2 separate regions of the Homo sapiens genome follow, and region 2 is linked to region 1. Evidence: fine-mapped expression QTL. A gene starts in region 1. The other region holds a variant in brackets. All regions are shown on one strand. Distances are from middle to middle.

The links. PIP is the estimated chance that this variant, and not a neighbour inherited with it, causes the effect.
Region 2: its variant is the best candidate, but not a certain one, in a credible set for the expression of LINC01191 in neutrophils (CEDAR, PIP 0.70).

What each region holds. Positions count from the first base shown.
Region 1 is chr2:113,977,310-113,981,700 of GRCh38, forward strand. LINC01191 (long intergenic non-protein coding RNA 1191) reads left to right here and starts at 2,260. Exons shown (of 2, transcript NR_148509.1): 1 at 2,260-2,819. LINC02992 (long intergenic non-protein coding RNA 2992) reads right to left here and starts at 2,675. Exons shown (of 1, transcript NR_034130.1): 1 at 360-2,675. RefSeq lists an enhancer at 2,128-2,277 and a silencer at 2,368-2,557.
Region 2 is chr2:113,947,504-113,951,894 of GRCh38, forward strand. It overlaps ACTR3 (actin related protein 3), which reads left to right. Exons shown (of 12, transcript NM_005721.5): 9 at 3,976-4,068; 10 at 4,217-4,342. Among named protein-coding and RNA genes, the nearest start is that of LINC01191, 30 kb to the right of the region's middle. The variant C/CA (reference allele first, on the strand shown) is at 1,874.

The DNA of each region.
Region 1 (4,391 bases):
GTGGTTTCTGAATACTGGTTCCAGATCTCAAGAGAGTGAGAATCTGACTGCCCAGCTTGAGCAAGTGGTCAACCCTGCTCACCCTGCTGTTTGGGGGCTAGTCCCACAAACATGGCAGACACCCCCGACCTCCTATAGGGGGTGCAGAGTCTCAGAGAGAGGGGCTGTGGTGAACAAAGGGGACAACCCTCCACAAAGGGCCCATGACACTGTGCGAACATGCCCACAGAGGGGTGGGTGCACCAATTAGAAAATGTTCGCATGAGATATGACTAGATTTCCCAAGAGACAACTCTCATAGATCAATGTGCCTGTCACGGAGGAGCAAGGAGTACGCTTGGAGAGGAAGAGGCAATGGGTAGCTATTTAAATTCATTGTAAACTGAGAAAACTGTAAACAGGGATGACGCTGCTTATGACATAGTCACATACACAGTGTCACATAGTTAAGGGGATCAGCCACATTGAGTGTGGATCTCTCCTCCTCTCGGAGCAACGTTCCTATTGACATTCGGAGAGGCACGCTGCCCCCAGATGCTCATTTTCAAACACAGGACGTGAGCAGTTTCACAAATATCCACCAGATGGTACCTTCCTACCAGAAATTAGGTTTCAGGTTGTGAAAATCCAAATTGTTTTTCCATTCCACGGACAAGCTATAGAATTAGATGCCTATCCTGGCTACGGTCAGAGGAAAGAAAATGGGTGAGAACCAATTCCAGGGAACGACCCACGGAGTTTTTATTCTCAAGAATACCAAACAGAACTTGCAGGGTCCTTTGTGTGGTGGAGGGAGGCAGCTGCTGTGGATGAGTCATGGAAAGGCCATGTGCAAGGGAAAGACCTTGAGGTTATCTCCGGAGAGGGGTTGGTTGTAAACATCCTCAATGGCACCTTTGTTTTATCCCACTAGTTGCCAAATACCTGTGATTCTGCACAGCGCTCCTGGAATGCTCAGAAATTATGACTGGTTACTCTGTCAAAGAAAGTCTTTGTTGTAGAAACTTCCTCATTTGTTCAGGCCTTTGGGTTCTAAGCCCTGAGCCATAGTCTCCCCCGGTTGTTTGCCTGTGTGGGCTAGGGAGGGTGACTGATGTTCACCGTGGGGTGACCACCTTGTCCTGGTTTGGCAGCTGCCTTCCTGCCTTTAGCAGTGACAGTAAAGCAAACCCAGGCGGTTGGTCATCTCGGTGCACTGAGCTGTACACACCAGGGACAGTGCTGGATCCTCACGCAGGTTCAATGAGCTGGGCGATTTGAGGTGGTAGATGCCGTCTTCACATGATTAATCATTTTGTTCTTGGCATTTTCCTAGTAGGTCTCCCTGCTTCCTTTTGCCAGAAAAGGTAAAGTTCTGGAGAAAGAGGTTTTTTCTTGGCTTTTGAGTTCAGGCCTTACAGAGGTAAAACCGAGTAGATGTGGGAGAACATGTGGTAAACAGATACAACTTTCCCGGGATGGGGAGAGAAAAATAGTGAAACTCCATCTCCACTAAAAATACAAAAACTAGCCCGGCGTGGTGGCACGCGCCTGTAATCCCAACTACTTGGGAGGCTGCGGCAGGTGAATCACTTGAAGCCGGGAGGTGAAGGCCGCAGTAACGCTGTTCCCTGCATTGGATGAAGTGCTCCCCACCAAACTCTCTCACCGGAGAGGGTGGGATCTGCGGGCTCCCTGGGTGGCTTGATTTCGACACCCTGTGGGCTGCCTTCCACTCTGGTACTTTCCTCTGCCTGCTGATGCTTGAAATTCCTTGAACCGGCCACACACACCTGCTTTCTGGAATCAGAACACTGGAAAGGCTTCCTGGGACGGGAGAAGAGTGATTTACATTCCTGCCGAGGTGTAAAGCTGCGGATGGCAGGTTCTCTCCTGAGAACCGGCTTCAACTAGGAGGAGGAGGTTGGAAGCAGGACCCCGAGCTGACCTGTTGACCAGGAGAGGAGTAAGCAGAAGGGAGGCAGGAGCGGGCGGAGGAGAGAAGGCCGGGGAGCCGGGATGGGGGTCACCGCCCCCGGGGAGCCGGGATGGGGGTCACCGCCCCCGGGGAGCCCGGATGGGGGTCACCGCCCCCGCCCCCGTGATGCCGAGCTGAAAAAGACAGTCTCCAGGTAGGATAATCCGTCACACTAGATGCATATAGCTTCATGCAAGAAGAGCGACTGTTGCGCTGTCTTCTACCCCCTTTGGCCGCGATCCCGTGACAATGCCGGCATCCGGGCACCAACTGGCTTTTGCGAACCGCTCTCCGCTCCCCGCCCGGATTCCGAAGCCCGGAGCCGTTTACAGTTTGAGGCGCCGTGTGCCGCCCCCTGGTGGCCGGAGGCCGTTACTGTCGCGGCTGAGGGGGCGTCCCGGTGTATCCGCAGCGCGCCCTGGCCGCCCTCTGGTGGCCGGAGGCCGTTACTGTCGCGGCTGAGGGGGCGTCCCGGTGTATCCGCAGCGCGCCCTGGCCGCCCCCTGGTGGCCGGAGGCCGTTACTGTCGCGGCTGAGGGGGCGTCCCGGTGTATCCGCAGCGCGCCCTGGCCGACCCCTGGTGGCCGGAGGCCGTTACTGTCGCGGCTGAAGGGGCGTGTCCCGGTGTATCCGCAGCGCGCCCTGGCTGCCCCCTGGTGGCCGGAGGCCGTTACTGTCGCGGCTGAGGGGGCGTCCCGGTGTATCCGCAGCGCGCCCTGTCCCGCCATATACATTCCGTGCTTTTCAAACACCCGCCGTGGGCTAAGCATGGGACCCACGTGGGGCGGGGACACACGGCGATAAAGAGCCAGGCCCTCGCTGCCAAGGAGCTTTCCCGTAACACCGATGCATCAAACAAAAGGTAGTAAAAGTGCCTGGGTTTTTGCGTTGAAATATCTTTCCCTTCAACTCCCCACAAGGTGCTTTTACTCCCCGTCATCACCACCGCCTGCCAGAGGCAGTAAACTTGGGTCCAGCGGGCCCCTGTCAAGCTGCATAACCACACAGTGAGAGGCTGTCTAGAGAAAGGCGTTTGTTCAGGAGCAGAGCGTTGCAACGGTAACACGCATGTCATAGTAAACTGTGCATATTCGAGGAGGCAGAGGAAGAAAGGAAGAGGAAGGTTTTCAAAGAGAAAGTAAGGAGGATTTCATAATTGTTTTCAAATGGTTATCCTTGGCTACAGAGATCAATAACAAGGGGTTGCCAGTCCAAGGTTAGACAGGCAGTTGCTGGGCGAATGTCCTTGTGGAGGTTTTTTTTTGTTTTTTTTTTTTTATATATATGTGTAAGGCTGTGATGGCCTTTGTGCAAGGTTATGGTTTTGTAGAGCCTTTTGTGTTAGTTTTTGTTATCAGGCATACAAGTGTGGGAGTGCTTTCTTCTTAGCTTTCCCTAGCTCTATTTGTCAAGTTTTTTTTGGTTTGTTTTTTGTTTTTTTTTCCCAAGATGGCGTCTTGCTCTGTCACCCAGACTGGAGTGCAGTGGCACGATCTCGGCTCACTGCAACCTCCACCTCCTGGGTTCAAGCGATTCTCCCGCCTCAGCCTCCTGAGTAGCTGGGAGGTGCCCGCCACCACGCCCAGCTAATTTTTGTATTTTTAGTAGAGACGGGGTTTCACCATGTTGGCCAGGCTGGTCTCGAACTCCTGACCTCAGGTGATCCGCCTGCCTCAGTCTCCCAAAGTGCTGGGATTACAGGCGTGGGCCACTGCGCACAGCCTGAGTTTTTTTTTTTTTAAAGAAAAAACATTAGTAACTCCATTTTGATTCTTACAACTTCCACACCACCTAGCACTTTATCTCCAACCCTCGGGGACAGCTGGTCTTGTAGACTCTGGCAATTCTAGACAATAACCTCACAGACAAACCATGATTACTCATTTCCCTGGGGCATGGCTGCTCTCAGCCCTTCTACATCCCCAGTCCTACTTATTTGCTTATCTCCTGGCCAGGCAAACCTCCTTTCCCCATGAAGTCCTTCCATGCCTGCTCCAAACCCACATGGCCTCTTTATTCTCAGGACTTCTCTCTACCATTATTTTTTTCGTTTTTTTTTTTTTTTTTTTTTTTTTTTAATTTTTATTTTCCAAGTAGACGTGAAGTTCCCCGATGGCTGAGGCTGTGTTACACCAATTTTCTACCCATCCTTCCTTCTTAAATTATGTCCCAGAGCTCCCAAGTTTCTCTTTTATTATGTACAGAAACTGCCTTCTTCCTTTCAAATATTGGGGCTACACTTAGGCCTCATCAACATATTCCCTCACCAGAGATGGGAAGTAGTTAAGTCAGGATAGGCTAAGTTATTGGCAGTAACAATCCTCAATCTCTGTGGGTTAAAATAACAAGGTTTATTTCTTCCTGATGTTTCACAACTACCGTGAATCACTTAAGGATAGGGTTGCCAGATTTAGCAAAGAAAAATACAAGACAT
Region 2 (4,391 bases), 30 kb before region 1:
AATTAGCCAGGCATGTGGCGTGTGCCTGTAGTTCCAGCTACTTGGGAGGCTGAGGTGAGAGTATTGCTTGAGCCCAGGAGGTCCAGGCTGCAACGAGCTGGCATTGCACCATTGTACTCCAGTGTGAGCAACAGAGCAAGACCCTGTCTCATAAATAAATAACCCAAAGCTTTAGATATGTAAATAAAATGTGTTTCATATTGCTTAGGAAAGGTATAGTTGGCTGGATGAAAATGTGTCTTGCTGCTAATGTTTCATATATCATTTTTTCTATTAATTTGAATAACCTTTATTGTTTCATACACCAATTTTTCTTTATTTTTTAACTTTAAAACATTTTCTGTTGTCTATAGCTTTATGTTCCTTATAAGTAATTTCTTCTATGAGAAACCTGTTTCTCTTTTTAAAAAACCTGTTTTGTTTTCTTTTTTTTAAAGGCTGTTTTTAAAAATCAGTTATATATATGCACATGGTTTAAAAGTCTTGGTCTGCGTATCCTAACAAAAACTAGGGGTGCCCTGCATGTTTCTTTCTCTTGTTTTGTATTTCTAGAGGTAACCACTTCAAACTCTTCTTAGTTGCTTCTTTTGCTGATTACCTCCTTAGCTATGAATTGCTTGGTTATATTGCAACTTCAAATTTTTTTTCAGTGTTAGGCTTTTCTTGTTTTCTTTTGGAAACAGGGTCTTGCTCTGTCACCCAGTGCAGTGGCTGAGTCATGGCTCGCTGCAGTCTCCCCAGGCTCAGGTGATCCTCTCACCTCAGACTCCCAAGTAGCTGGGACTACAGGTATGTGCCACCACTTCCAGCTAATTTTTGTATTTTTCGTAGAAACAGGGTTTTGCCATGTTGCCCAGGCTGGTCTTGAACTCCTGGGCTCGAGCAATTCACCCATCTTGCCCTCCCAAAGCGCTGGGATTATAGGAATGAGCCACTGTGCCCAGCCCTGTGTTAGGCGTTGTCTGTCGAATTCCAACTATGGAAGAGGAAGATTGTCTTTTTTATCCTTCTTCTGTCATCACAGACAGGACCTTTCTATTCCCTTTTCATCTCATTTGTTACATTATAATTTCAAGTAGGTTGAAATTCAGTGCTTATGTTTTTGTGACCACAAATTTTGTTCATATCTGAGCCATGTAGTTAACCATGAAATCTTTTCCCTTCCTATAAGTAACTTTGTTTTCCAAGAAGTCATTAATAAACTGTTTGCTTAGTGCTAAAATAATTACCATTCATTCACCTCCAAACTCTCTTCAGTAGTTATATAAATCTCTTCTCAGGATATTCAGATGTATAGGGTTTATTCATCAGTTTAATTTTCTGAAGTGTCTTTTACATCCCAATCTGAACTTGCTTCTGTCGGTTCCCAGTATAGAGTTGCCATATTCCTTTACTATCATTCTAGGGATTCCCTTTCCCTCTCTCTTGTGTTGGATCTCTTTTTCGTATATCCTATGTCTTTTTCACTCCATTTACATGATCTAAATGAAAAGATTTTGTATTAGTATGTGTCACTTTGATAACATTAAATCTCTTTTCATTGTATGCGCAGCCTGTAAATAATTTAGAACTAATCTTAAAAACTGGAAAAAGGCAGGGCGTGGTGGCTCACACCTATAATCCCAGCACTTTGGGAGGCTGAGGCAGGCGGATCACCTGAGGTCAGGAGTTCGAGATCAGCCTGGCCAACATGGTGAAACCCCGTCTCTACTAAAAACACAAAAATTAGCCGGGCGTGGTGGCGGACGCTTGTAATCCCAGCTACTCGGGAGGCTGAGGTAGGAGAATTGCTTGAACCCAGGAGGCAGAGGTTGCAGTGAGCCAAGATTGCGCCACTGCACTCCAGCCTGGGTGTCAGATCGAGACTCGGTCT[C/CA]AAAAAAAAAAAAAAAAGAAAAAAAAAAAGAAAAAATTGACACATGCCTAATAATTATCAATACAGTTATAGACTCAGTTTAATAAATAAAGGAATAATGTCTCTCAACTAGGACAACCTAATGATAAAAATGAATGGCTGAGGAGATATACAATACTTGTTTGTTTTTCACTAATTAGAGCTAGATTTTGATTATTTATTTAGAGACAGAGTCTCTCTCTGTCACCCAGGCTGGAGTGCAGTGGTGTGATCATAACTCAGTGTAACCTCGAATTCCTAGGGTCAAGCAATCCTTTTTCCTCAGCCCTCTCAAGTAGCTGGAACTACAGGTGTGTGCCACCATGCCTAGCTAGTTTTTAAATTTTTTGTAGAGACAGGGTCTCGCTATGTTGCCCAGGCTGGTGTCAAACTCTGGGTCTCAAGCAATGGTCCTGCCTTGGCCTCCCAAAGCACTGGGATTATAGGTGTGAGTCACCATGCCCAGCTTCAAGTTGTTTTTTGTTTTTGTTTAAGTTAGTTTTTTAAAAAGTATGTTTTTCTTGAGTGCCAGCTGTTTGGAAATAGTAAGTTTATTTTGACTATGGTATATCATCGTTTGAATATATAGCTGATGTTTGTTATTCAAAGTAGATGTGCCAAAAAGTTCTTGAGAGCGCTGAATTAGTGAACACTGAGCTAGCTATTGCTCCTAGGGGAAATACAGTATTAGGTTTCTTTGAGCCTCTGGTAACATTTTTGTTATCCCATTAACATATACCCTTGTTTCATGTGTGTTTCTTTTTAAAGGCACTGCATTTAGTATATCATTTTAGTATATTCATTTATATTCAATAGCACTAGAACACATGTCTGAACAAAGCTATCTAACTTGCTTTTTCTCTGTAAGACACATCACAGCCTCCTTGTGTTTACTAGCCAGCACTTGAGCAGTATGCTTGGGGGCCATTTTAAATAATGAAATCACTAACAAAAATATGAAAACCGTGCCACTAAATAGAACTGTGAAAAGGACACTTGTTTATAGTATGAGAGCTGAAACTAGATAGCAGAGTATCATCTTGTTCAACCTCAATGGGGAATGTGCACATCAGTGGACTCAAATTTTTGTTGCTCTACACGTGCATGTCCATGAATAACCATATTTTGATTTGGGGAGTAACAAATATGTTTTAGCGATTAGGTAAATTCACAAATATGGAATCATGAATAATGAGATTAGACTACATTTATTTATTTCATCCCCTATTGATGGACTTAACGGGTTTTTCCTCTTAGAAACAAGGCTATAGTAAATATGCATATGTAATAGCATACATGTTTGGGGAGTTTCTTCAGAGTTTGTTGTAAGAAGTGGAGTTACTGGTATGTGCATTTAAAATTTTATTAGCTATTTGTATTAGTCCGTTTTCATACTGCTAATAAAGACATACCTGAGACTGGGCAATTTATAAAAGAAAGAGGTTTAATTGGACTTATGGTTCCACGTGGCTGGGGAAGCCTCACAATCATGGCAGAAGGCAAGGAGGAGCAAGTCCTGTCTTACATGATGGCAGCAGGCAAAGAGAGAATGAGGAAGACGCAAAAGCAGAAATCCCTGATAAAACCATCAGACCTTGTGCAACTTATTCACTCCATGAGAACAGTATGGGGGAAACCACCCTCATGATTCAATTCTCTCTCACCAGGTCCCTCCCACAACACGTGGAAATTATGGGAGTACAATTCAAGATGAGATTTGGGTGGGGACACAGAGCCAGACCATGTCACTATGTTACTATTGCCAAATTATTCTCCATAGTGGTTACATCAGTGTATACTCTCACAGCGTTATATGAAAGTTTCCATTTACCCAGATTTTTGCCAGCTCATAGTATATGTATGACTTTACATGTTTGCTATTCTGATAGTTATAAAATGGTATATATCATCATAATTTTGAGTTTTCTCTGATTTCAGTGTCTTCAATCTGAATCTGTTAGAGACCAGTATTAGTGGTTTCTAAAAGGCCTTTTGTTTTTGAACTGAAAACTTTGTTTAACCTTTTATTGTGATATTTGTCAGTAGTGATATGATCTCTATTATATATCCAACTTATTTTTCAGTTTGCTAATCCAGACTTTACACAACCTATCTCAGAAGTTGTAGATGAAGTAATTCAGAATTGTCCTATTGATGTCAGACGTCCTCTCTACAAGGTATTTATAGCAAAATTGTTATTCAAGGTCTTACTTTAAAAAAACTTAAACACCTCTCATAAAAAGGATATAATAGCATTTCAGTACTATATATTATATCTTTAAACTTTTCTCTTTTTAAATATTATATTTATTTTCTCTCCACTAGAATATTGTCCTCTCTGGAGGTTCAACCATGTTCAGGGACTTTGGACGTCGCTTGCAAAGAGATTTGAAAAGAACTGTAGATGCCCGGCTGAAATTAAGTGAGGAATTGAGTGGTGGTAGATTGAAGGTTGGTTTTCCCAATTATTGGTGAGAAGGTTGAGGGTGCCTTCCTTGAT